Linked DNA regions of Homo sapiens: regions 2, 3 and 4 are each reported to be linked to region 1. Evidence: microRNA targets listed by miRTarBase, many of them from high-throughput screens and not tested one by one. Region 1 holds a microRNA gene; each other region holds the end of a gene's coding sequence. Distances are between the middles of the regions.

Region 1 (7,119 bases):
GGGTAGCCTATATTTTAAAATAGAGTTTAGAGCCATTCTAGTCTCTTAGAATGATATTTTTGAAGATAGCCCAGTTGACTGACATTGTCCTGTGCTGGTTCTGTTGTGTTCTTCCTCCTCCAGGAATGAAATGGAAAGGCATTTTCTGGAGCTTCTTCAGTTTAATATTAATGTTCCTGCCAGTGTTTATGCCAAATACTACTTTGACCTTCGCTCCTTAGCAGATGACAACAACCTGAATTTTCTATTTGCTCCTCTTAGCAAAGAAAGAGCACAGAACCTAGAGGTAAGGCTATGAAGTCACTAAGTGAGGTTTTCCATCAGCCACCAAAGCCAACATCTGTGACTAAATCATATTAAGTAGTGATTAGGAAAATGGAAAGCTTTAAAATTAACTAACACTGAAGAGCTTATTAGCCCTTTGGCGTCAGATTTCCTGTGTCTTGTATGGTTTATACAAGGATCAACATTATTTAAAAATTATACATATTAACTCTTCTGTGACCATAATTCAGAATATTTTAAATCAAATTTAATCTGTTGTTAATGAGGTTTCCTTTTGAACTTCTACCCTTTCACATAACCATACATGAATAATTTTTTTAGCTGGGCACTGTGGCTCATGTCTGTAATCCCAGCACTTTGGGAGGCTGAGGTGGGCAGATCACTTGAGGTCAGGAGTTCAAGACCAGCCTGGCGAACATGGTGAAACCCTGTCCCTACTAAAAATACACACACAGGCCGGGCGCGGTGGCTTACGCCTGTAAGCCCAGCACTTTGGGAGGCCGAGGAGGGCAGATCACCTGAGGTTGGGAGTTCAAGACCAGCCTGACCAACATGGAGAAACCCCGTCTCTACTAAAAATACAAAATTAGCCGGCCGTGGTGGCGCATGCCTGTAATCCCAGCTACTCGGGAGGCTGAGGCAGGAGAATCGCTTGAACCCGGGAGGCGGAGGTTGTGGTGAGCTGAAATCGTGCCATTGCACTCCAGCCTGGGCAACAAGAGCGAAACTCCATCTCAAAAAAAAAAAAAAAAAGTACACACACACAAAAATACAGGCATGGGGGTGCATGCCTGTAATCCCAGCTACTTGGGAGGCTGAGGCATGAGCATCGCTTGAACCTGGGAGGCGGAGGTTGCAGTGAGCCAAGATTGCACCGCTGCACTCTAGCCTAGGTGACGGAGTGAGATTGTGTCTCCAAAAAAAAAAAATTTTTTCTTTGCGACTGTATTCCTAATTTTATCTACATACATAATTCACTTGCCACTCTTGACTGTCTTACTTACTGTTTGCAAATTCATGTCATGGTTTATGTATCACAGTGCAGTCCCATGAGTTTTTTAGACAAAGGATTAGTGGATAAGCCAAGAGACCTATACCCTTCACTGTATAGGATGCAGGTGTTTCAAATGCTGGATGTAAGTGGTAGGCATGGTGGCTCACACCTGTAATTCCAGCATTTTGGGAGGCCGAGGCAGGTGGATCACTTGAGATCAGGACTTCAAGACCAGCCTTACCAACACAGAGAAACCCGGTCTCTACTAAAAATTCAAAAATTAGCCGGGCGTGGTGGCAGACGCCCAGTTACTCAGGAGGCTGAGGCATGAGAATTGCTTGAACCCGGGAGGCGGAGGCTGCAGTGAGCCGAGATCATGCCACTGCACTCCAGCCTGGGCGATAGAGCAAGACCCTTGTCTCAAAAAAAAAAAAATAATAATGTAGGAAGTACATGGGTTTTTAATAGAAATGGTAACTTTATGGGGCAAAGTAATATTTATGGCTTATGACTCTTGGTGAGTATACAGCAGAATTACAACTGAAATGGACACATATTTTAAACTAACACTTTCTGTGGTACCTTGGTGGTACTTTAGAATAATATGTATTTCTAGGCTGGGCTCAGTGGCACATGCCTGAGAGTGGCTCATGCCTCAGAGGCTCATTCCTCCCAGCACTTTGGGAGGCCGAGGCAGGCGGGATCACCTGAGGTCAGGAGTTTGAGACCAGCCTGGCCAACATGGTGAAACCCTGTCTCTACTAAAAATACAAAAAATTAGCTGGGTATGGTGGCACATGCCTGTAATCCTAGCTACTTGGGAGGCTGAGGCAGGAGAATCGCTTGAACCTGGGAGATAGAGGTTGCAATGAGCTGAGATCACTCCAGCCTGGGCAACGAGCGAAACTCTGCCTCAAAAAAAAAAAAGAAAAAAATAATAATATGTATTTCTACCATAATTAACGTGCATGTGAAGTAATACCTTTTGGCGCGTCAGTCATCAGACCGCTCATATGTTCCAGTATAGTCCAGCACACACCTGCCTCATTAAAATGTGCTTTGAGTATATAATAGCTAATAAGGATTGGGTAGAATTTGAATAGCTGAATAAACATTTTTTTGCACAAGTGTACGTTTGTTATATTTAAGGAATAAGTTAACAGATAACAGATGCTATTGCTGTTAGGAGCCCTATCACAATACCTTTGATATCTTTGGGAATCCAGTTTTTTAATAATATAATAAATTCCCCTTTGTTCTCTGGGAATCTAACCATAGCCCTTAAAGGATATTACCTTGGTGAACTGTCAGGAAGTAGTGTCCCCACAACCTGGCAGTGTAAAACTCAGCCAAAGTAGCTGTAACTGTGAACTATCTAAAGGAGTCCACATGTGTGGCTTTCACAATGGTGCTCTTTCAAAGGCGGGAACCCTTTTTAAAATTGTACCTGTTTTCTATTTGATTGACTTTCCTAGGCTATTTCTAGATTGTGTGAAGACAAAGACTTGTGTAGAGCCGCTATGAGAAGGTCTTTCAGTGCTGATAACTTCATTGGTATTCAGCGCTCTAAAGCCATCCTCTCTTAAAAGGAGAAATGAGGGGTTATAACGTCATGGGACCTTCATCTACAAAGACTGGAGAAATACCACCTTTCCTGCTCAAAAACCAGCAAAATTAGTGTTTTCATCAAAAGGAAAGATCTCAAATTCAAGAGACTCATGGACAACAAGGATTATACTCCACAGGAAAGAATGGGACCTTGTCAATGCAACAAAACACTCTTCTGTCCTTTTTAATGTAAACAGAGTTACAAAAACCACTCCAAAGTGAAGGCTCCCATCCTACACACAGATATTTGCTTACTGTGTGGGCCGATAGCTGTGAACTATGTAAGGTTTTTTAAACAATAGTTTAAATTTTTAGACTTTAAAGACACTAACCATATAACTTTTATGTTTCTTCCAGTTTCTCTCCCTCCCCCCGCATTTTGCTGCATATGCCTTTAAAATCAATGCAGTATTACCATTAAAACATGGGACTCTAACTAAAGCCACTTAGGAGCAGACAGCAGCGTTGTTAGGTACTGAAGGGTTCTTCCTCCCTACTGTTACCATTGAAGCTGCTAGTCATTGGCAATCATTTTAAACCAAAAAGCTGCTGGATAACATTTGTCATTCATATTCTTTGCAAGCATTACTTTAGCATTTTAGCATGTTTGGGGTCATAAACAGAGGAAGTATCAGTTATTGATATCTACTTCTATTGGAGTCCATGTTGCATTTCTTGTGAACTATAAATGGTGCTTCTCATTTTCTGATAATTTTTCTCTTGCTAAATAAATGTATTAAAAGATATTTTCATAATGCCAACCAACATGGTGGTTCAGTGACGATGAGAAAAAGTGAAGCAGTTTTAAGCTTGAATATAGTTTGGGCCCTCCAAGGCACTGCAGCATGAGTATAAATGCTATAAACCTTTAAAAAACATGATTTGAAAGTTTTTTGTTTTGTTTTGTTTGTTTTTAAAGAGATGGGGGTCTTACTGCGTTGTCCAGGCTGGAGTGCAGTGGCTTTTCACAGGTGCAATCATTGTGCACTCACTGCAGCCTAGAACTTCCTGGTCTCAAGCCATCCTCTAGCCTCAGCCACACAAGTAGCTGGGACTACAAGTGCAACTGGCACCTGTCTCCTGAATATTAAGCTTTTAATTTTTTGTTTCGGTCACTCTTGATAGCAGACATTGACTGAAACAAAAAATTAAAAGCTTTATATTCAAAATTTGCAAAATGAAGCTGGGTGTGGTGGTGCACGCCTATAGTCCCAGCTACTTGGGAGGCTGAGGCTGGAGGATTGCTTGAGGTCAAGTATTGGAGGCTGCAGTGTACCATGATGGTGCCTATAGGAATAGCTACTACACTCCAACCTGGACAACGTTATCAAGACCCCATCTCTTAGAAAAATGCAAAATTAAATGCAAAAGAAATGGGCTGGGCATAGTGATTCATGCCTGTAATCTCAGTACCCTGGGAGGCTGAGGTGGAAGGATTGCTTGAGTGCAGGAGTTCAAGACCAGTCTAGGCAACATAGTGAGACCCTGCCTGTAAAAAAAAATAATAAAAATAGTTGGATATGGTGGCATGTGTCTGTAGTCCCAGCCACTCTGGAGGCTAAGGTGGGAGGATCAGTAGAGCCCAGGAGGTCAAGGCTGCAGTGGGCCATGATCATGTCACTGCTCTCCAACCTGGGCGACATCCAGACCCTGTCTCAAAGAAAAAAGCAGAAGAAAAATGTTCAGACAAGGTTTTGTAAAGGTTTGTAGCATTTATATTTCTACAAGTATCAAAGCTTAAAATTACACTGAACTTTTGGAATACCTTGTATCTCCATAAAATGCCCTCTTTTTAAAAGTAGTTACCCGCAGAGCTGTGCTCTATATGCTTTGATTACCGCAGTTTCTTTAAAGGAAGATTTTGAAGAGCAGTGTTAATTAACATGTAATAAAAGGAATTGGACCCTAATTATAGAAGGTGATATGAACAGCTGTTTTATCATCCTACATGCTACCAAGCTGTAGGTGTCCCATTAAGTCCTGCTATTTAAGAAATACTTACATAACCCTTAGGAACTCTTCAGGCTTTAAAAGGCAAGGAGCAAATAATTTTAGGAGACCGATAATGTCACCTAAATTTGAAATACTAAGAAGAGGTTAGTGTTCTCAACTATGTGAAATCTGTTTCTCCTACTTTCTCAAATCTAATCCTAGGAATCTTGCTTATAAACAAAGCATTTCTGGGACAGGAGTACTTCCTCTATTATAGCAATGCTTCACATCATATTGTGCTGCAGTTTCCATCATTTTTAAAGGACAGAGACATAAATGATAAATAATGGTATACAAATATTACAATCTACCACCTCAAAAAAACAAATATTGTTTATGGAATTCAGAGTTTGGAGATTCAAGTATTGATTGCAGTTTTATTTTGAAAAGAATGCTACAATTTATGTGGTTTTTATTTCTCATGTTTATATTAAAAGCTAATAAACTCTATTTTAATTAAAATATGGCTAGTGTGTTTGTAACACTTCTATCCACATAGTGTTACATCTCTGCCCAGCCTAGTTTTAAGTCAATCCTGATATGTCTTAAAGCATTTTCAAACCAACCATAAGTTGATTTGATCCATGCCTCTAGTTAAGATGTAGTGATCCATTTCTTTTGCATATGCTCTTTTCAACCTGAAGATAATTTATTACACTTAAAATCACTGACCACAATACTTAATGGCATAGTGCATTAGATGGCATCTTGAATAGTTGGTTATCGTGTCTGAGAGGGAAAAGCACATTAGAATATAAAATTAAGCAAAATGTATCAAAGAGAAAGGAATTAAAGGAATAGCGTAGAATTAGAACAAGAGGTATTTGAGGTTTTCAGACAAACAGGAAAGAGAATGGAAAGACAGGAACTAGAATTTGTGTTGCTGTTGAGAGGATGTCTTAAGCCACATAATTTGACTTTAATGTGCTATTTTCAAGCTTACATTTCAGTTAAAAATATACCAAGTCACTATTAGGTTTCTTTAGAACTAAGAGTCTAGCCACTCAGCTTTAGCAATTCTCAATAAATCCTGATAGCATTGCAATATTTTCATCCACTTTAATTCTTCATTACCTAAAGTCAAATATTTAAGTAAATGATCACAGTCAGGCACGGTGGCTCACGCCCGTAATCCCAGCACTTTGGGAGCCCAAGGTGGGTCGATCACTTGAGGCCAAGAGTTTGAGACCATCCTGGCCAACATGGTGAAACCTCGTCTTTATTGAAATTACAAAAAAAGACGGTGCAGTGGCTCACGCCTGTAATCACAACACATGAGGTCGGGAGTCTGGCCAACATGGTAAACCTCGTCTCTATTTAAAAAAAAAAAAAAAAAAAAAGCCAGGTGTGATGATGCACGCCTGTAATCCCAGCTACTCGGGAGGCTGAGGCAGGCGAATCCCTTAACTCTGGAGGCGGAAGTTGCAGTGAGCCAAGATGACGTCACTGCACTCCAGCCTGGGCGACACTGCAACTCCGGCTCAAAAGAAATAAAATTAGAAAAACGTTAGTGGGACGTGGTGGCACACGCCTGTAATCCTAGCTACTCAGGAGGCTGAGGCACAAGAATCGCTTGAACCCAGGAGGCAGAGTGCAGTGAGCCGCGATTGCGCACCACTGTACTCCAGCCTGAGCGACAGCATGAGACTGTGTCTCAAAAAAACAAAAACTAACTGATCACTGTGTCTTGATAAGTTGCCGACTAGGATAAAAGATCTAACTTAGGAAAAAAATCTATCATACGTCACTTTATAAGATGGTTTGCACCCTGTGATATGCCAGTTATAAGCAGAAATGCTGACACATTTGGCCAAAGGTTTAAAAGTTGGGAGAGGGACATTGGACATGAATCTGTGACTTGAAGAACAAGTTGGTAAAATAAGTATCACTAAGCTGCTCTCTTCCTTTGACTTTTAATTCTAGAAGGCAATACAGCGACTTTGATAAATGGGAAATTGGGTCAGTTGAGGAAAAGAGTATAAATGTCACTGAAAAGCAGGTAGGTTCTCTGACAAATGGGGCATGGAAACCAAGTTGCTAGTGGGGTGGTAACTATGGCATTTTTCTCAAGAGTTCTATACCTAGGGAAGATTCGTTCCCTAACATGAGACTTTAAAAAAGGGCTGATTACCTGGACTCAAATTTATTTTCATTTGTAGGTTTTTTTTAACTACTATAATACAGACCCCAATAGAATATTAACTTTGGTATATTGTGAATTGAACTTTCACATTTTCATT
Region 2 (7,119 bases), 11 Mb from region 1:
GACCTGGAGGTATCAAAAATCCAAGAGGCTGCCGTGCAGAGTGATCGAGATCGGAGTGGCTACATCTTCTTTTATATGCACAAGTAAGAAACTTTGCCAGATTCTAAATAATGAGTTAGAAATCACCGGAACTCTTTTTTTTTTTTTTTTTTCCTTTGAGGATAAAATGTTTCCATCAGTTGATTGGTTGAAAATTTTTGGTTTTTATCATCTTTGGTTAGGGTCTATCTCTTGATATTTCCTTGTAAGTCCAGAATATTTTCTCTCATAACTCAGCATTAATTGCTCATTACACAGTTGTATCTAGGTATGGAAGTTAAGACAGTTTGTTTTATGATAGAAGATGTCCTGTCATAAATAGTTTTGGTCATCCAGTTTTATCAGCTAGAAGATCTGATTTATATGGATGGGAATTACCTAGCATGTTCATTAAAGCTAACTGTTGTCAGTTCCCCTCTATTCTTAAAAATCAGCATTCAAAGGGTTAAGATCAAATGAGTGAGCTGCTTTTTAAATAAAATACAGGCATGAAATGGAATTGTGAAGGCCTTATCCATATCAATTTTATTTTACTTTTTCTCCTGCCTATTCTTTGGTTCTGCTTACTAAATTTCCAGTTTTATTTTTTGCTTGTTTTATCTTAAGGGAGATCTTTGATGAGCTGCTGGAAACAGAAAAGAACTCTCAGTCACTTAGCACGGAAGTGGGGAAGACTACCCGTCAGGCCTTGTGAGGAACAAACTCCTGGGTTGGCAGCATGCACTGCATATTTGTTACTGCTGCCCACCTCACCTTTCCTCTGCTGAAGGAGAATTTGGAATTCTACTTGATGCGGGAGCAACAAACAGCTCAGGGCCAAACCAAAAGACAAAAATTGGAGTAACGTAGAATGCTCCATGCTATTTTATGGAAACTTTGGTCTCACATCCGTAGCTGATTATCCTCTTTTTCTCCTATGAGTGGCACTTCTTTTGTCTTAGGAATACATGTTGTAAATATATATCTGTGTATGTGTGTATACACACACACAGACACACACACACACACACGGGATGAATGGAGCCTTAAAGAGTTAGGATGAGCCACCAGAATATGCCTGCTCAAAATTAATAGCACAGCAGTTTGGAGAAGAAATGAAGGTGTCAAAGAGTCCATTCACCTGAGAAATGTGTGAAGACATACTTATCAGTTGGCTTTTAGCTTTTATGTTCCTTGAGTAGTTTCACTCAAGTCTGTAACCTTTTGTGTTTCCTTATTAGTAAAATTCACTGGAAAGCCAGCTCTTCATGTTACACTAATGACAGTTTGTTCTCTTTGCAAGAGAGGGGCATTACTGTCACCTGACTTGAGGAGCTGTTTTGTTGTTGTTGTTGTCTGCAAATTTCATGAATTTGTGATGTCTTTGCTGTTTACATGCAGTCCCAAGAAATGGATTGTTGGTGCTTTGGAATATGTTACAGTCCCACATTTGATATTTCTTATATACTTTGTTTTCTCTAAGGAGATTTCTTCACACAGTATGTTCATCATATATCATCATCATTATTATGGTGGTAAAGATAGAATCTTTTTTCTTTTTTGTCATTCTGCCATGGAGCAGCATTACCCTAATGGATTGCAACCAAAACTTTAAACAAGTAGAAAGATAATATTTCTCCAATTGGGACTCCCCAGCAGGAATACTTAGGGATAAGGAAGAATGCTAGCATCTCTGTCTCTCAAACATAGGGAGGATAAGAAGAGTGTTCTTCTGGTAAAGCTAAAATTCTGGACCACTGAAGCTAAAAGCCCTATTGCAAGTATGAAATTAAGTACTTGAGCTGTAGGACAAACCTTGGGCATTTAACCATTTACTGTCTGGCTTTGCCCTTAAAATAGGGTTGCAATTAAAATGTGATTGGCTTAGGTAATCCCAAAAACTAACAAATAACAAAGGTGCATAATTTATTTATCTACTTTTTAGGTGCTCTGAGTTGAGGCAAAGTAGAGCGGCAACATTAAGTGCTATGCTAGTCACTTAGCTGACGTAACCAGCTTGGTTAAGCAGCTTATGAAACCATATAAAGAATTCTTTTGAGGATGGAATTCTGTCCACAAAATAATTTTGTGAGCCCAGATATCATTAGGATCACACAGAGTTAAATATAGAAAAATGAAACCATCATTATATTCTTTCGTGTTTTTTCTTTTATTATAAACAAGGGGATTATTCTTTAGTTCTCAGAGGTAGGGACAAAACCACATCAGGTTTTCAGAAGGAAAAAACATTTAAAAACCCACCATCACATGAGAGAATCACTTGAACCCAGGAGGCAGAGGTTGCAGTGAGCTGAGATCGCATCATTGCACTGCAGTCTGAGTGACAGAGTGAGACTCCATCTCATTAAAAAAAACGAAAACAAAAACAAAAAAAACACAAACCATCATCACAGAAGATGCAACATCTTTTCTGAAAGATTGCCTTAAGAGAGCTCCAGTCCTACTCTTGGAACTTGGATGTATTCTAATGTAGTAAACTATTCTAAGTTTTCATTCTTTGAATTATAAATGGCCTCAGCAGTTTTGCTCAACTACTGATAAATGCTTTGCCTCCTACCATCTACCTATATACCTTATTGTAATGAATGTTCCAAAATGGTAGAGTGGTAGAAAACGCCAGAGTAGTTTAGAGCAGAGGAAAATATTTGTTTTAAAACTAGCTTTAAAGTTTTGTTTCATTTCTACCAGGAGCCTCTTTGGTTTGGTTTGATTTTGCTTGGAAATAATTGGTTTTCTTATAAATGAGTGAAGCGGTGATAAAATTCTTTGGCTAGTTATTAATTCTTTTACGTGTCTTTGCATTTGAGAGGCACTGTTAAAAATTATTGGGAAAGATTTAAAGTGCAGGCTGCAATTAAAACATGGAGAAAAGTAGAAATAATGCCATAAGTCTAGATTGCCTCATGAAGCAGCCTCATTTGAATTGCTTTCATAGCTTTCATGTGTGTATGGTTTAGAAGTACACTTACCTCAGAAACCTGATTTGATCTTCATGTCTTGGGCAGGAGTTGTTGAAAATAGGTTATTGGAATATATAAGTTATCTCACTGCTCATGTACTTGCATGTTTGGGACTCAAATTTTACTTGATGTCTGTCCATTCTTGTGGCCCTATCAGCCTTCTCCTTCCTTTACTCCTTTAATCTACTTCTTTGACTACCAGTGGAGATTTCAGCTGGACTATGTTGATGGGGTTTGTTGTTGTTTTTGAGCTGGCTGTATATATTTTAAAATTATAAATAGATAATATATTATTTTTTGCACATTGTGATCAGTTTGCCCAGAATTGGGGATGGGGCAGTTAGCATGTTGGGGCCAGGAAGGGACAAGTTAGATAAGGACTGAGTGCTTCCGTTGCAGGCAGTTTGCACAATACCTAATTAACCTTCCTATTGAAAATACCAAATGTGTGGTTACATTACTTTAAATGACATTGAATTGGAACTTGATGGCAATTAGTTCTAGATACAACCTTTTGATCTTTGTTGGAATTTTAAGGGAAAAATGAACTAAACTTCATATTTGTTGATTTTAATCACCTAATAGTACTGAAGGTTGGAAAGTTGCATGTGGCTGGATGCTGTTAATTTCTTTAATAGCCATGACTATAATTTAAGCCTATGAGAAGATAGACTGTTTCGTAGGGATATATTCACATGTGTGTGCACACTCATGAGTTTTGTCTCAGCAGGATAGAATAAGCAAATCCATGAACTGGTCTTCTATTAATACTTTGATTCTAAAAATTATTTGTTTACTTGCTATGGTCTGTTCATTCTGGGCCTAACCTTAAAGGCTCAATAACAAATACAACAAATGTAAATATGTTTACATTTTAAGACATATGCAGTGGTTCTTACAGATCAGTTAATTAACTCCAGAAAGCAAATGTTAGACTACACATTTATTTTTCTCCTTGATCAAGTATAAAATTCTGAAACAGAGGCTTTAAAATTTAAAACCTCAGCAAAATAATCCATGAATTTACTGATTCTTCTGTATCGTGTGTAGTTACCATTATGTAACTATACACACATACAGCTACGGATATAATGAAAATTATCTGCAAACACCTAAATTAAAGAGAAAAAAAAGTAGTTTGTAAACTCATTTGTGATCTACTGAAAAGAGGTTATATTAAAGCAAATTAAAATATTTTCCTTCTCTGTCCTCTGAAATGACTGCAGTAGATACTCTTAGTTATCCCATTTAGGGTGGTTGGAGGGCCTTTTTAATTTAATTGACCCCCCGAGGTGGTCTTTTGTTTTAAACAGGGGGCAACAGCTGGATCTCCAAGTACATATGGATTTTGTATATATAGGAGATTTTTAGAAAAATCAACAACCTAACACCAGATTCAAGTCACATAAAAGTGTTCCAATAAAATGGATGGATGTCTTTTTCCTCCCCATTTTGCTTTATACTGAGTAATGCACTCTTGCAAGTGTATACAAAAACTAAATAGACTTCTGCCCTCCAACATCTTTTTATTGCATTACTTCAAAATCCTAATTTTGTCTCTACTGATATGTCTTATTAACATCTGAAAAAATATATATTTTTTATTGGAAAATTCTAATTTGTTAGGCCTTGAAAGTTTTGTGACAATTATTTTGCTGTGTTTAACCACAATCATTCACCTTATGGCATGCTTTGATTACTAGACTTCAGGCAGTCTCATTCATTGTATCATACTTACACACAATTAGTAAGTTGTCTCCATGTGTGCTATATGTCTGAGGTGTATGGAGTTTTTATTTAAAAAGTGTGCCAGTCTGAATATAAGCATTTGATTTTGTAACATTGGACTTTTCTTAAAAGTACAGAGGTTCAAAGTATAGGTATGTCCATTGGCATAAGAATAGAGTGGGTGAGGGTCTGGACCAGGTTCCAGGTTGGTCCAGTCAGATGCCAGAACAAAGAAGAACAGTCAACTAAACTGGTCTACTTCAAAAATAGTGGGCCTGTGTGAAGAGTGAGACCACATGTGGGTGTGCACACCTCTTGTCCCCAGGTTTCCCTCCCTTTGAGCTTTTCTTTCCCTCCCTAACTTCTCTGGCCTATTGTCATTGTTGTTTCTTTAAACTTAAGGAGAGAAAAACAAAAATGAGATTCCTACACTTTGCCTAATTGAGCCACTACCAGGTTTTCTGGCAGCTGTGGCCACATTATTTGTGAGATGATTTTTTTTCTTTATGTTCAGAGTGACTTTTGATTCTGATTCTTTATGTTTTGTATGGAGCGGCACTTTTATCTGTGTTTTAGCAGAACTGTTCCTCTGTATCCTTTACGGTTTTTCTTTGTTTTTGTTTCCTTTTTAAATTATGCATAGAGTTTTTTTGTGTGTATGAAATTAAAGCCTTTATTAACCTTCTTTGATTTGACTGTTATTTCTGAAAAGGACACATTCTTGCTGATACTTGTAACAACCTGTTCAAAGTTGTGGAAATCACCTTCTGTTGGCTTTCTGACATGGACTTCCTTGCAGCACTGTTACTTCTTAAAAGGAACAGAATGGCAAACCAGTGTCTGGCCGTAGTCCCCATTGATTCCTGTTATTTTCATCTGAGGAGCCTGTGAAGCTTTGCAGAGGCTTCTGGGTAAGTTTGTAAACCTAGCATTGGCCTTCACTAGGCTCTTGCTTTGCCTCATTATTAAGGGTTGGGAGAGGGAGTGAAGTAGCATATGCATTTCATACTTGCCTTTAGGTCTCAAGCCTAGCCCCAGTGGAAGTGCTGCTCTCACTGGTACTGTTTGGAATTTGTGAAACCTCTTAAGAGGGTAGTCTTGTGGACCATTCAACTCTCCTTCAGCCCTTTAACTTACCCACTGAGTAAGGCAGTAAGGAAAGTATATGTGAAAAGGAAAAGCTGTTACTCTGGGGAAGATGTAAACCTGCAAAGTGCTTCAGCCTACCTGCCATAGATAAAAATGAGTCATGATAGAGGACAAGCTAGGGTAGTGCCTCAGAACTCTAATGTTCCATGGAGTGTTTGTGCTCTTCTAAGAAGAGAAAACTATAGGAGTATTAAAATTGATGCAATACCTCAGGATAGAAACAATCTAGCGACCTTAGAAGTTGAAATGAGGACCATAGGCTCCTTTTGGGGTATCATCTTTCTGAAGGAATAGGTACATTATTAAACAAAACTGGCATTTGCCACAGAAGTTTGTGCTCATAGGCACATCTGCAAAATTTCACTTCAATTGGTGTAGGACTAATATCGGTGAGAAAATGAGACCCTACAATCAGGGTAGGGTACTGCTTTACAACCACAGCTACTCTTCTCAAAATAGTCCTTTTTCTTTCTTGAGGTTTTGTTGCTTCCATCGAGGCAGAGCAGAGAAGGCAGCTGGAGTCATCCCAAAGGCCTGAGTGAAATCTTCAATGGACAGGTGTTCCTAGAAGAAGAGAGGGACCAGAGGGCAAAGGTCACATATCCTTCCTTCCTCCCTCACCCTCAGGCACCGTTTGCTCTGATGAGTCATAGATGTGGTATATAATCAAATAAATGAAGAGTAAACAGAAGCAGTGTCAGGAGAGCCAGGAAAGGGATGGAGAGGAGGAGAGTATGGTATTTTGGTATTCCAGAGGTTTATCCCTGATTTTTTTTTTTTTCCAGACCATGTCTTGTTCTGTTGCCCAGGCTGGAGTGTAGTGGCATGAACTCAATTCACTGCAACCTCCGCCTCCTGGTTTCAAGTGATTCTCCTGCCTCAGCCTCCCAAGTAGCTGAGATTAGAGGCATGCGCCACCATGCCCTGGTAACTTTTGTGTTTTTAGTAGAGACGGGATTTTACCATGTTGGCCAGGCTAGTCTCGAACTCCTGACCTCAAGTGATCCACCCTACTTGGCCTCCCAAAGTGCTGGGATTACAGGTGTGAGCCAGCACACCTGGCCTGATCCCTGAATTTTTAACAATGAAAAAGATAGTAGTGTGGTAGATTGAGATTTTCTTTGTACAAGGGTCAAGTTCACATTAGCCCAAATAAGAATTAGGACTCCTCTTTCCAAGCCTTAGTTTCCTCTCTATTAAATGGGGAACTTTTTTTTTTTTTTAAGACAGTGTCTTACTGTGT
Region 3 (7,119 bases), not on the chromosome of region 1:
ACAAAAACAAAAAACCCCATCACGTTTGGCTGGGTGCGGTGGCTCACGCCTACAATCCCAGCACTTTGGGAGGCCGAGGTGGGAGGATGGTTGTGAAGCCAGGGGTTCAAGATCAGCCTGATCAGCATAGCAAGACGCCATGTCTACAAAATACAAGGGGAAAAAAATTAGCCGGGCATGGTGGCACATGTCTGTAGTCCCAGCTGCTTGGGAGGCTGAGGTGGGAGGACTGCTTGAGCCCAGGAGTTTGAGGCTGCAGTGAGCTGAGATCGCACCACTGCATTCCAGCCTGGGCGACAGAGTGAGACCCTGTCTAATAAACAAAAAACAGGCCAGGCACGGTGGCTCATGCCTGTAATCCCAGCATTTTGGGAGGCCGAGGTGAAGGATCACTTGAGGTCAGGAGTTCTAGACCAGCCTGAGCAACATGAAACCCCATCACTACAAAAAATAAACAAAATTCACAGGGCGTGGCAGGGTGCGCCAGTGGTCCCAGCTACTCAGGAGGCTGAGGTGGGAGGATCACTTGAGCCCTGGAGGTCGAGGCTGCAGTGAACTGGGATCCAGACACTGCATTCCAGCCTGGGTGACAGTGAGAGACCCTGTCTCAAACAACAACAAACGAATAAACAAAAAACACCCAAACCATCAGGTTTTTATGCTGACACCCATGTTGACTGCTCAGCCCTCTCCCCGCAGTCTGACTTATATCCAGTGACTTCCTCTTGGATACCTGAGAGGCAGCTCCAGTCTCCAGTGCTCCACGCCGGGCTTCCCATACCCCCTCTGGCAGAGGAAGAGTCTTTTTTTTTTTTTTTGAGATGGAGTTTCGCTGTTGTCACCCAGGCTGGAATGCAATGGCAGGCTCTCTGCTCTCTGCAACCTCTGCCTCCCGGGTTTAAGTGATTCTCCAGTCTCAGCCTCCCAAGGAGCTGGGATTACAGGCATGTGCCACTATGCCCGGCTAATTTTGTATTTTTAGTAGAGACAGGGTTTCACCATGTTGGCTGGGCTGGTCTCGAACTCCTGACCGAAGCGATGATCCAGCCGCCTCAGCCTCCCAAAGTGCTGGGATTACAGGTGTGAGCCCCTGCGCCCGGCGGAAGAGTCTTCATGTTGTTTTGCGGCACCCTGCAGATCTGCCCCTCCCCTCCGTCCCTCCCCCGTCCCGTGACCTCTGATGTGCGCTTGTCTGCTGACTCTGGGGCTGGGGGCTGTGTTCTTCCCTAGGACTGCGGGCTGCAGCTGAGCGGGGAGGAGGGACGCCGTTGCTATCCCCTGGCGGGCCACCTACTGTGTCGTCGTTGCCACCTGCGGCGCCTCCAACCTGGGCCTCTTCCCTCACCCACTGTGCACGTCACTGAGCTCTGAGCAGGGGAAAACCCGTCCCTGGGCCGGGGTGGGTGTGGGTGTGGAGGGAGGGCCCGCGTGGGTGGCCCTGGTCAGCGTCAGGGGAGCTCCCTCCAATCAGTTTCCCACCGAGCTGCTGTCTGCAGGGGCCGGACCCCCGCGTGGAAGCTTCTATTTATTCACCGTCTGTGCCTGCTCAAGTCACTTCCCTGCGGGCCCTGCCTCCCACCCACCCCATCACCAGCTTTCCACTTGGAGGCCCCCTGTGCCCTGCAGCCTCAGGGTAGGCCGTGGGTCACCAGGCTGGAGAGGGCCCCTGCCTTGGCCAGGGGTGCGAGGTGACCCGGCTGCATTGCTGGGTGGGAGCTGCTGTCTGTTGTTCAGGGGCCTGGCCCCCGCCCTCCCCCCCGACCCCGACCTCGCAAAGCGCACTCCCGGGCAGGGTGTGGTCTGGAAGGCGGGGCTGGCGGGGACATGGGTGTTCCTGCATCTCCTAGCGCAGTTCCTGCTGGTGGGTGGAAGGGTGCCTGGTTTAGGCGGGGTCCCAGGAGGGGGTGAGGGGTGACACCCTTGGGGAGGGGGCCTGCAAAGGGCACTGCCTGTGGCCACGTGGTGTCTGTGGGAATTGGTCCTGGGGACTTTGATGGGTGTTTGCGGCCCCAGTTGCCGCCCTGCTCCCTCTTCCAGGGCTCCTGGCTTGGGCCCCCCGACCCCCCTGCTCAGCTCGGGAAAATCCCCGTGCGGCTCCAGCCCCGGGTCACGCTCAGGAGCGATGAGAGGGGCGCCCTGGCCACGCTTCAGGAAAGCCTGTGTCTGCGCGCGGGGCAAGGGGCTCCACGACAAAAGGACAAGATTTGACTTAAATTAAGTTTTTCCCTTGAGGATATTTTCATTTTCTTTAAAAGAATATAATTTTCTTCTAAGATCTTGGACCAGCCTTGTTATTTTTAAAGCAAATGCCGGCAAACTCACAAGTGTCTAGTTTGTCTGTTACGGAGCTGGTTTTCAGGTGGTAAGAACCTTGTGGTTTCAGGACTTTTGTCCTGAAATTCCTCTAAAACTTCGCCACGCGTGTCCACCTTTCAGACTTTAGGGTAGTGTGGGGTTCCGTGTGTGTCCGGGTGTTAAGGGCGGTCGCCCCATGAAATGCAGTGTGGAGGTCCCTCCGTGCTCCCCGGGACACACTGACGGGAATGTGGGGTCTGGACATGGGAGGCCCTGGTCCTGATGCGGAATCCCCAGGGGTTCAGGGGACATCTGGACTGAAGTCACTCGCCCCTGGGAGAGCCTGGACCCACCTCTTGGCTGCTGCTCTCCCCTTCCTCCCCCACCGTCAGGTGTGAGTTCTGTGAATCACTCGCGGGGCTGGGCTAGGCTCCGGGAACCAGCAGGGCTGTCCAGGCCGAGCCCAAGGGAACAAACACCAGGAGGCGCCCGCAGGGAAGTGGCGGCTTCGGAGTCCAGCAGGGCCGAGGCATGGCGCGGGCGCCACCTGGTGGGCTGAGCCGGCAAGTACAGGGGTGGTCAGGGAGCCTTAGCCAGGGACTTACACAGCGTGGAGAGCGCTGCATCTTAGAGTGGGGCCTTCAGCAGGACCAGGGGCCACTTCTTGGAGGAGGTGATCCCACTGGGGCCAGAGAGTAAAGTCCAGGCGTGGAGGCTCCGGTGCTGGCTCTCTCCTGCTAGCTGAGCTGCTTTTTCTTTTCTTTTCTTTTTTTTTTTTTGAGACGGAGTGTCATTGTGTCACCCAGGCTGGAGTGCAGTGGCACAATCTTGGCTCACTGCAGCCTCCGCCTCCCGGGTTCAAGCAATTCTCCTGCTTTAGTCTCCCGAGTAGCTGGGACTACAGGCGCACGCCACCACGCCCGGCTAATTTTGTATTTTTAGTAGAGATGGGGTTTCACCATGTTGGTCAGGCTGGTCTCCAACTGCTGACCTCAGGGGCGATCCACCCACCTCAGCCTCCCAAAGTGCTGGGATTACAGGTGTGTACCACTGTGCCCGGCTTTTTTTTTTTTTTTTTTTGAGACAGGGTCTCGTTCTGTCGCCCAGGCTGGAGTGCGTTGGCACAATCTGGGCCTACTGCAACCTCTGCCTCCAGGGTTCAAGTAATTCTCATGCCTCAGCCTCCCCAGTAGCTGAGACTACAGGTGTGCCCCATGACGCCCAGCTATTTTTTTTTTTTTTTTTTTTAAAGACAGAGTCTAGCTCTGTCGCCCAGGCTGGAGTGCAGTGGCGTGATCTGGGCTGACTGCAACCTCTGCCTCCCACGTTCAAGCATTCTGCCTCAGCCTTCCAAGTGCTGGGATTACAAGTGTGCGCCACCAGGCCTGGCTAATTTTTGTATTTTTAGTAGAGTCGGGGTTTCACCATGTTGGCCAGACTGGTCTGGAACTCCTGGCCTCAAGCGATCCATCCGCCTTGACCTTCCAAAGTTCTGGGATTACAGGCGTGAGCCACTGTGCCTGGCCTTACTTTTTGTATTTTTAGTTGAGAGGGGGTTTCAGCATGTTGGCCAGGTTGGTGTCAAACTCCTGACCTCAAGCGAGCCCACCTTGGCCTCCCAGAGTGTTGGGATTACAGGCTTGAGCCACCGTGCCTGGCCTGGGCTCCTTTGCCTTCTAACTGGTCAGTTGCAAAGCTGTCCTCTGAACTGTCCTCTCTGCTTCCTCCCTCAAACCTGCTTTGAGCCGGGTTTCTCCTTGTTGCCAACCCGGTCCTTCTCCTCCCCTTCCTTTGCATGTGCCATGGTGGGCCCTGTGCTTATATCCATGGGGTTGCTTCACTGAACCCTGCTCCATCCCGGTCACCATGCACGCTCCTGCCAGCTGGCCTGAGTCATCACAGCTTGGAGTCCCCCCAACCCCACCCAAGTAACACACTTTGTCAAAGGTCGCAGTCAAGGGACTGCATAGGCCCTTGGGGCAGTGGCCTCACCAGGCCACACTCTGCCCTTTCTTTCTGGGCCCCTGGGCCCCGCATTGCCTTCTGTCAGGGCTGGTGGCCACTGCTCCACCTCCTCCCCCGGAGCTGTGCATGGCAGTTCCCTCCGTGGGAGCCACTCTCCCGGGGTTTCTTCCTCTATGAAGAAACCTTGGCCTCTATGAAGTCAGGCCCCAGTTGTGACACCTCACTTGACACCCAGAAGTCTTGGCCTCTGCTCTCCAAGCTCATTTGCCAACAGCAGTATCTCCATTTCATGCCCAGGGGTGACACTGACCCCATGATTATAGAGATGGAGGATGCTGTGTGAGAACTGGGCTGAGCCATGCCAGTGGCCTGTGACCCTCCAGCCCTGGATGCCACCCCCCACCTGCCCAAGGGGACCCCCACTGATGTGGTCTCTGCTGACACCTGTGCCTGTGCCTGGGGTCCCTGTCATCCTTCCCTGGTCTGAGTGGCAAGTCTCCTGCCATCCCTGTCCCCGCTATGCGGTGAGCTCTTCAGCTTGGGCCCGCCTGGTGGCTCACGCTACTCTCCACCGTGCCTGGATTAGGGCGAGTGCTGAGGCTGGAGCTGACCCTGCCCTGGCCTTCAGGGTCTTGGCTTAGTTCCACCTGCACTGGTCCAAGTCCAGCCTGGTTGCCTAGTGAAGGATCCACAGTGGGTACATAAAGGGCCAAGCGCTGTCCACGTGGACACATCCTATGTGGGCGTGAGTGCTCCCTGCAATCCCCAGACAAGCCTGCCTCTCAGCGGGGCTCAGCTCAGAGACATAGACCCTGGAGGGCTGAGTCTGCCTGTGTGCGTGTGTGTGTGCATGTGTGTGTGTGTGAGAGAGAGACAGGGATGGGGGGAGAGTGTGTGTATCAATGAGAGAGACGGAGAAAGTCGTGTGTGAAAGGGATTGAATATTTCAGAAAATGAATGAGAGAGATTGGGAGAGATGGTGGGAGGTGGAGTGGGAGAGAGACCTGTTGTTTAAGAGGGAGACTGAGTGACTCCGAGAATGAGGGGGAAAGATACGGAGACAGGATAAGCTGCAGAGAGAGAGGGAGAGAGGGATTGAACTGGAGCGAGACCAACAGAGCCCTGACGCTGGGATTTGGGAGGATTTGGTGGGTTCTCAGTGACCCCACTGAGGCCTGACCCACCAGTGGAAAAGGCTCACCTCCTGTAAGTGACCACACTGTGGGGTGTAATTGTGTGTTTGTTTGTGTGTGTGTGTGTGTGTCTGTGTGTGTGTTGGCGTCGCCCTGATGGCCTCTTGGAGGGTCCTGGGGTGGGTGGGTCTTGGGCATGGGGTGCCCTCTGCCCTCATTCTTTCTTCATCCGGGCTCCCTGCCCCTGTTGGGGTGGGAAGCACAGATGTCAGCTTGCTGAGCTGCAGGTACCATGACAATCCCAAGTGGAACTGCTCTTGGGGGGCTGTGTGGGGAGGGGCCACTGGGCAGGATTTATGAGACCTGGGCAGAGGTGTGGGGAGCAGTGTGGGCCAGAGGGTGACTGGGGGTTGGGGTGAGTTGGGTAGGGTGCAGCTGTGCTCATCCCTCCCACCCAGCCCCACCCTGAGGCTGGTCTCTAGCTCGTGAGCAGAGGCCGAGAGAAGGCCCTTCCCCATCACGGGGTCCTGTCTCGTCCGGTCTGGCAGCCCTCATCTGGCCAGGAGGCCAGCAAGGACTTCCGGTGCCACACTCGGGAGGGGTGAGGGCTTTGCTGGCTGCAGGGTTAGGAGTAGGCGCAGCCTGTGGGGCCCAGGAGAACCTTGGGGTGGGGATCAAGAACAGGTCTGGGAGAGGGGGGAGCATCAGGGCCACCTGCAGCCTCCACCCAGCCCAGCTCTGGAGGCTTTGCCCCCACCCCGCCCCCATGGTAGGCGTGTTCCCTAGAGGCTGGTGGGGACCTGGGAGAGGGGCATGTGCACACATTTCATGGGGATGATGGGGGACTCTGGGAGCCAGCCTGGGTGGGGGCTCAGAGGTGGGAGGGGCCCTGAGGCCTGAGGTGGTGGAAGGAGCTCACCTATCTCAGGCCCAGGCCCTTGCCAGGTTCCTAGTCCCTGGCCGGATACCCCAGGGTGGCCTGGGATCCTGGAGAGTGCTCAGGAAACTCAGGAGGAGTGTGGACGCGGCTCCTCTCCTTCCACCCACTTCCCTGGCCCTGAGGGCATTGCTGGGCCACCATCCCAGACCTGGGGCATGTGTCACAGGGCTGCCAGGAGGGCATAGGGCCCAAGGATTCCCCAGGGATGCCAGCCCCCCTGTGGGCCCTCAGGACTGGTAGCCCTGGGCCCCCTGGCGCTTTGTAGGGAGGTGCTCAGCAGTGATGGTTGTGTGCCTGTCACACCCACCCACCTGTGCCTCCCCCCACCTGCCACGCCCATTGTCCTACACCCAGCGCACACTCCTCTCCACGCTGCGCACGTGAACCCGCCCGGGTCACACACCTGCCCTGCCATGGTGACAGGACTGTGTGGGATCTCTGCCTCCCTGCCTGAAGTTCCTGCCATTGGGACCTGTCACAGGCACACAGGACACAGCTGGCTCACCCTCTTCTCTGACAGCACCTGGGCCATCCCTGATAGTGATCAGCCCTGCTGAGGAAGGGTTAGGGTGGGCTGCAGGCTGGAGGCCAGGGAGAGGCCCTGGACCGGGCCTGGCATTTACTCACCCTCCTCCCATCCCACACTGTCCCGGAGCCTCCATCTCCACCTGAGCCAGCTGGGTTGATGCGGATTTCCAGGCATCCTCAGCGGGACCCATGGCCTGGGGTCACCACCTTCCTGAGCTGCGTGGATCTCAGCCAGGACTTCTCGTCCCTGAGAACAGA
Region 4 (7,119 bases), not on the chromosome of region 1:
CATCTTCAACTGGCGTGGATGCCTCTACCTAAATGGGAATCACCATTCCCCTCTCAGAGAGATCCTCAGGGCACCTTGTTCTGCTTCCTGCAGCTCATCTCACCTGGCCCCCGAGAAAGGGACTGCAGAGAGGTTCTGTTTGTTCTGGCTAGAAAAGCAGGTTCCTCCTTGCTTGTCCCTGGTTGTAATCCCTAGGTTTCTGAAACAGGATTTCTGCCATTGCTCACTTGCCAACAGGCTGTCCTGAAACACCAAGAAAGGGCACTGGGAAACTGAGCTGGGGAACTATATGCCCTAGCATGGATAGGCTGCACTGACAGGAGACCAAACCTGGCTGGGGATGAGCGAGCACAGGGGCCAAATCACACAGTGGCCACCAGTAGCTCAGTTTCCATGGCAACGTCTGGCTTCTAGAGATGGAGGCGCCTATCTGGGAGAAAGTCTGGCTTCCTCCCATCCTCCTCCAAGGTAGGGGTCTTCTTCTCTGGCTTGAGGAAGCTGCTGAGGTCCCTGCCAGGGGCCATCTGTGCTGGCTCACCTGCAGGAGATGAGGAAGTGGAGCAAGGGGACAGTTCTCCAACACTTGGACTAAGAAAATGCCCAGCTCCCTAAATCCATCCACAGCCACATCCTGTGGCTTTATCCTTGCCAGGCGTCTGCCTCAGGAGGGAGACAGAACAGATGCTAGAGTTCAGAGCTCCTGAAATGGTGATGCTTCCAACTGGCTCTAAAAAAAAAAAAAATGAAACTCTTGGATGGAAAATTACCACCAGCTCCATTAGCAATTAAGCAAATGAGAAGAGGCTGACTTGAAGCCTCAGGTGCCATTTCAGGTTGTCTAGAGGAGTGGGTAGCTGTCAGGAGGGAGTGTCAGGAGATACCGGGGGACATTGCCAGGCAGGCATGGGGCAGGGAGGGCAAGTACACATGTATGTAGGTTTAATTTGTTTTATGCACAAGATAGAAGGCTAAAGGTATGTGTAAAAAGTAAGTTGTTGGCTGGGTGTGGTGACTCACACCTGTAATCCAGTACTTTGGGAGGCCAAAGTGAGCAGATCGCCTGAGTCCAGGAGTTTGAGATCAGCCTGGGCAAAACGTAGCAAAATCCCATCTCTACAAAAAATACAAAAAATTAGCCGGGTGTGGTGGCATGTGCCTGTGGTCCCAGCTACTAAGGAGGCTAAGGTGGGAGGATTGCTTGAGCCTGGGAGGTCAAGGATGCAGTGAGCCTAGATTGTGCCACTGTACTCTGACCTGGGTGACAGAGCCAGACCTTGTCTAAAAAAGAAAAAAAAAAGCTGTTGACAGTCTAGGTCATAGAATCACAAAATGTTAAAGCTGGAAGGAGCCAAAGCTGTTGACAGTCTAGGTCATAGAATCACAAAATGTTAAAGCTGGAAGGAGCCTTAGTGATCATTTGCTCCAAATTCATTTTACAGTGGTCAGTCACAAAGCCAAGCCGGGTTGCAGATTCCCAGCTTCTGAGGCAATGCTCTAGACATGAGTCAATTTTATACGCAGGAACAGTGCTTGTTATTCGAAGCATTTCAATGGAAAGTCCATGTATAAAGTGACTCATGAACTCTGCTTCCCTCTTCCATTTCTCTTTTACATCAATCCAGACTCTTAAGTATGAGTTTTGGGTTCAGGTGGGCCATATTCATAGTTACCTGTGAAACATAGTCTGCATAACATTCGACTATGTGGGATAAAACCAACTGATCCTACTTTATTATGAAAATTTAAATGCTAGTTGCCATTACAATAGAATGTATGTGTATACATAATATAAAATAGGGAATTATGTGCAGACTTGGAAAGCAACGACATCTCATGGCTTTCTTTATGGATTGTTTATCCTATTTAAGAACCTTCTATTTTAATTCTGTGTGACCTGGCTAATTTTCTACTAGCTTGAAAATTCAGGCTCTGCCCCTTGCTTAATCCCTCTTCCTCCAGAGGCCAGGGCTGTAGTGGCCACCAGGAAGGCTTAGGATGACAGGACTCCAGGAGTGCCCTTGTCCCTGCTTGCCACCAGGAGTTCATGAGTACCACTGGCTGCTACTAGACCCTTCCATTGATGGAGTATTTCTTTGGGGAATGTTAAAGAAAGAGAAGTTAGTAGTTTCCACCAAATTTTTCTCCCCAGCAATGAAGCCAAATCCCTGAAAAGCTTCACCCAACCTTGGCATTCCTAATTGTATGTAGCCTCTTTGATTCAGTACTCAAGCAAGGCCACCAAGGTACACACACATGCACATGCACAGAGTACTCTATGACTCACTCCTGGGTATATATCTTAGAGAAACTCACACAAGCGCACAAGGAGACATGCAGAGGAATGTCATAGCAGCATTTCTTGTAACAGTAAAAAAAAAAAAAAAGAAAAAGAAACATGTAGATATACATCAACTGCATAGGACTGTGGCATATCCATACAATGGAATATCATACATCAGTGAAAAAGAAATAAACTGGAGCTGCATGTGTCTGCACAGATGAAACTGAAATATTTAATGTTGAGTGAAAATAGTGTGATACAATTTAAATGAAGTTTAAAAACACTTTATGGAACTCAGGGCTTACAGAGACATGTAATAAAAGTATGAGGGAATGCCTGGGATGATAAACCCCAAATCCAAGGTCATGGTCTTCTGAGTAAAGGGCACTGAGGGTACTTCAATTGTAGTTGTCAAGTTTTATTAAACATGGCAGTGGCTCATAAGTGCTTATCAGATGATTTCTTCTGCATTTTATATGCCAAAATATTAGGTAAAACGGAAAAAAAGAAAACACCAGGCAGCTGACCCTGTTGGAAATTTTTTATTTACCACTGCAAGGTTTTTGCTCCAAAGTGTCACACCAGACATATGACTACAATGTCTCATGCATCTTTTTGTGCTTTAGTTCATGACTGCAAAACACACACTTAGCATTTGACAACAGGAAACACAGAGGGCAGAAACAAATCACAAGGACTAGTTGGTTTAGGTTACAGCCACATTTTACCCAGGACTCCTTTACATCCAAGAGAAATGGACCCTGAATAACTGGTCTCCTAGCTGATTCTCTGTGCCCAGCTTTGTTTGGAGTGATTTGTCATTCAACCCACACAAAAAGTTGTATCTCAAATCAAAATGGACAGACATATGCAAGGTCTTAATCAATAAGTGCTCAACAAATAGATATTGATTTGGTGCAAGAGGTGGAATCACAGATTAATGAGGGCAGACTCCCGATTTTCTATCCCCGTAGAAATCTCTGAAGAAAGAACCAGATCACCTTTTTGAGCAACAGTGCATTCTGAAATGGTCTCTCACCTTATTTTTACCTCTACCTCACACCCTTTTTAGAAATGCTCACTGGCATCACACAAGGTGTTCCTTTCGAAAATGATGAGATACTTCACACAGGCTCAGTTACTATAATTTGATAGTAAATTGGAAATGTTTCTGGTACAAGGTAAGCTGATGCAAAGACTACTGAAATATTTTTATTTGGCAGTTTGACATCTCTGGATAATTTAAAATTCACTAAGATGGAGTTTTAGTGGAAAAGCAGAGCAATTATATTCTCTTCATCTGTTGATTACATTTACATGGAGAGCAATGAGTTGCCATTAGGCAAATAGTAATACTCATTGTCATGAATTTCTAGCTTGACTGCTAAGACATCTGATGCCTTTACCATTGAGAACTCAGCTAGGACTTTAATTTTTATGCCATTTGCAGTGTCTTTTTCTGCCTACTCTGCCAGCCACTCTTAATTCATTAATTCACTCAACAAATATATATGAATATATATGGAGCACCCATGAGACAGCTTTATCCCAGGCACTTAGAATACAGTGAACATAACAGACAACTCTCCTTCAAAATGTATCTCATTTCTGTAATCCCTGCTAAGTGAGGTCAAGGCTGACATCTAAGATGTTCTGTGGCGGAACCTGGCCCCCATCAGGGGCAACCTTTAATTTGGATTCTGGAAGACTAAAACTTTGAGATCCCTCCCCCGCCCCGCCCCCCCAAAAAAAAGAAGAAGAAGAATGAAAGGATGCTTCATGACCAAATGATGATGGGTGGAGTTGATAATTCTGGGATCGGGGCCCCGCCCAGCCCACCTGAAATTCCTTTGATGGTACTATAAGGCAGCTGCACAGATTTATAAGGAGCCATGTTTCCTGATTTTTGGTCTAGAATCCAAATTTTCTAGATTGGAGTAGTAGATGTTACCAAGAAGAGAATGCTGGTCAGCTTTCAGCTTATAGGAAATGTTTTGTTTTCTTTTACCCACACCAACCAAAGAGAAGAAACCAGTATGGTGAAGAGATCTCTAAAACATTTCATAGGAAGCCACTAACAAGTGCTTTGCCTACACAACACTTGGCAGGGGCTGGCCAACCTCAGTGATGAAGGTTTCCAATTATCCAAAAGACTTCTCATGAAAGAGGGATTCGATATTTTTTCTGTTTTTTCAGAGGATGGTTAGAAGTTATTTCTAATGCTTTTCTATTTCTGTACAGAAAGAAAAAATAATGACCACAGGTTATAAGGCTCCTGCTCAGATTCTCAGGGAGAGGCCAAGTATGACTTGACTTGTTGAAGGAATGAAGCCCTTACCCATCTTGTCCAGAAATTCTGTCTTAGGGAAGTGGATTAGGGTGACATCTGAAGGCCCAGAGTTTTAATATTAATAGAGAGGGGTCCAAAGGCAGAATCCATGGTTCTGGAAATGCCACGATGCTTCTGGCACTTTCTGGGCATTCTCAGCTGCCAAATTAAAGTGAAAAATAGGCCGGGCGCGGTGGCTCAGGCCTGTAATCCCAGTACTTTGGGAGGCCGAGGAGGGTAGATCACCTGAGATCTGGAGTTGAAGACCAGCCTGGCCAACATGGTGAAACCCCATCTCTACTAAAAGTACAAAAATTAGCCAGGCATGTTGGTGGGCACCTGTAATCCCAGCTACCCAGGAGGCTGAGAGAGGAGAATCGCTTGAACTTGGGAGGCGGAGGTTGCAGTGAGCCGAGATCGTGCCACTGCACTCCAGCCTGGGCAACAAAGAGCAAAACTCCGTCTAAAAAAAAAGGTGAAAAATAGTAACTTAGCTTAAAGATGATCTGCTGGTGGCCTCAGAGTTTGTTTTTAGCCAGAGAGTGCCTACAGGTTTTGAACACTATTTCATCTAGTATATCATTCATTGGGGTAGGCTTCCTAGTCATTAGTCCTATCTTACACAGCTGGCCAAACAGGTGCTGAAGGGCAATGTCAACAACAGAACCCAGGAATCCTGGTTCAGGTGTAAGTACCGTATCCACTCAGCAAGGCTCATAATTTAGATTTAATTAACAATGTGGACATCTGTTTAGAATAACAAGGTAGGAATTCAAAACCTAGCTGCTGGTTATTTACCCATTCAAGTGAAAACAGACAGAGGGAGGCACAGTTGCAAAAGACCTGATTTCCTTTTTAAAATTATCTTTCTTCTCTACCTACATGTAGCCAGATGTCATAGACTAAGTCAATAACTAAATTCCTCCTGAAGTGACTGGAACGCTGAGAAGGGACCGGTCTATCTCAGAGTCACTTTGGTGATGCTGGTGGGTGTGACATCTAGCAATCAGAACCCAGCCAATGACTCACAGGAGATCCCACCTGTACTTTGTTAGGGATGGTCTCCCCAAGGATAATAGAAACTGATTTTAAGATAAAAACAATAAAATTCTTCAATAAAAAGCACAAAATTCAGTCCAAGAGCAGGGGGCTTATGAAATGCACAAATTAAAGTATTAAGAATTAAAATAATTAAATTAAAAAGCTGAGGCCCCAGATTTCACCCTGATGGTTGAGGTGTCCAGCATTGGAACTGGCTGCACCATGGTTTTGGGACTCCATCAAGGACTGTGGCCAAAAACCTGTGTGGAATATTGTAGAAGGAATTTCTCCACATACAGTGCTCCACCCTCTACATCAGCTTGTTAAAAAGGAAGGCTCCTGGGCTTCGACCAGGAATACCGACTAGGAATGTCTCCAGGCGAGCCCAGGAATCTGCTGGTGACTCTTCACATGCTAAAGTTTGAGAACTGCCGGGTGACTGCCCTGCATGGTGAGCTTGATTGAACGCTGGCTAAGGTTTCTTTCCACCTGGGCAATCTCTAACTCTAGGAGTTGATCCAGGATACTTTCACTTCCTTCATCATTTTTGAAATGCTTGTTTTTCAAAAAGCCAAATTCTTCTTTGCATCCATGATTCCCACATTTAGCTTTCTCTGCATCTGGCCTAACCCCACCTATAAAACAGGCATAGGAACTGTATTTAATAAGCACCTCCTTCAATAACACAGATGAGCAAAATGCATTCCTCAGTGTGACCCGCATATTCCATTTCCTGCTCTGTCTTGCTTATTTCTAAGAAACAAGAGTATGATGAGAGAGCCATCCCAGCCTTGCAAACACATCTGTCACTGTCTTCTGGGTGTCAGAATGAGGAAAGGGGCACAGAAAGGAGGTTGCAGAGGACGGGTCAGGGCTGTCCAAGAAGGGAGGCAGCTGGGCAGCTGGTTACAGGTGCAGCTGGTGCCACATGGCAATCTGCCGGCGAGGGTTTTTGAGCATCTCCTCCCAGTGGCTGCGCTCAGAGCCCGAGGTGTGCAGGCCCAGGCTGCAGTGGCCAAGCGCACAGCTCTGCCCTGAATCGTCCTGGCCCAGCACTTCCAGCTCCACACTGGAGGCCTGCAGCAGGTCGTCAGGCAGCTCAAACATGATCATCTCGTTCCACACGGGGTTGATCTTGTGCTTAGCTCGTTTAGTCTGCTTCTTCTTCAGCTTCCGAGCCTGGTGCTTCAAGGTCACCTTGACAGAGACATCTGGGGAGGGGCAGAGGGGAAAAAGAGACAGAGAGAAGGGACAAGAGTGAGTTTCTGGGATCTGGCAGGGCCCAGGACAAAGCTCCCTCCTGGTGCTGGAAAGATGCTCAAGAGTTCGGACATCTGTGCCCCATATACCCAAACATCTTAGAGGCCTCAGTTTTTCCTTCTGGATACCCCAGCACAGGTCCCAAGTCTATGTGACCATAGAAGGCTCTGCTATACCAGCAGGAAAGCATCCCACCCGGACAATCTAT

What was found. Region 1 holds the annotated microRNA hsa-miR-4775 (UUAAUUUUUUGUUUCGGUCACU, at 3,983-4,004, shown strand). A microRNA usually pairs through its seed, bases 2 to 8, with sites in the 3' UTR of a target mRNA and lowers its output. Matches are read on the target gene's strand: a 7mer-m8 pairs with bases 2 to 8, a 7mer-A1 pairs with bases 2 to 7 and ends in A, and an 8mer does both.
Region 2: the mRNA of USP37 is a reported target of hsa-miR-4775. Seed matches in the 3' UTR shown: 8mer at 1,103-1,110, 7mer-A1 at 1,805-1,811, 7mer-m8 at 2,858-2,864, 7mer-m8 at 3,268-3,274, 7mer-m8 at 3,781-3,787, 7mer-m8 at 4,094-4,100 and 3 more.
Region 3: miRTarBase lists WTIP as a target of hsa-miR-4775. Seed matches in the 3' UTR shown: 7mer-A1 at 2,212-2,218.
Region 4: the mRNA of SYT13 is a reported target of hsa-miR-4775. Seed matches in the 3' UTR shown: 7mer-A1 at 3,970-3,976 and 8mer at 3,710-3,717.

Annotation. Positions count from the first base shown.
Region 1 is chr2:207,750,834-207,757,952 of GRCh38, forward strand. MIR4775 (microRNA 4775) reads left to right here and starts at 3,974; the gene lies at 3,974-4,048. CCNYL1 (cyclin Y like 1) reads left to right here. Exons shown (of 10, transcript NM_001330218.2): 9 at 124-286; 10 at 2,755-5,341. The coding sequence ends at 2,865.
Region 2 is chr2:218,448,544-218,455,662 of GRCh38, reverse strand. USP37 (ubiquitin specific peptidase 37) reads left to right here. Exons shown (of 26, transcript NM_020935.3): 25 at 1-83; 26 at 646-5,412. The coding sequence ends at 733. It overlaps VIL1 (villin 1), which reads right to left. Exons shown (of 20, transcript NM_007127.3): 20 at 2,368-6,440. The coding sequence ends at 6,327. Among named protein-coding and RNA genes, the nearest start is that of VIL1, 33 kb to the right of the region's middle.
Region 3 is chr19:34,498,899-34,506,017 of GRCh38, forward strand. WTIP (WT1 interacting protein) reads left to right here. Exons shown (of 8, transcript NM_001080436.2): 8 at 1,231-7,119. The coding sequence ends at 1,371. Among named protein-coding and RNA genes, the nearest start is that of WTIP, 21 kb to the left of the region's middle. RefSeq lists enhancers at 1-260, 4,521-5,342, 6,353-6,853, 6,854-7,119 and a silencer at 2,912-2,971.
Region 4 is chr11:45,237,495-45,244,613 of GRCh38, forward strand. SYT13 (synaptotagmin 13) reads right to left here. Exons shown (of 6, transcript NM_020826.3): 6 at 2,808-6,862. The coding sequence ends at 6,558. Among named protein-coding and RNA genes, the nearest start is that of SYT13, 45 kb to the right of the region's middle. RefSeq lists an enhancer at 6,137-6,637.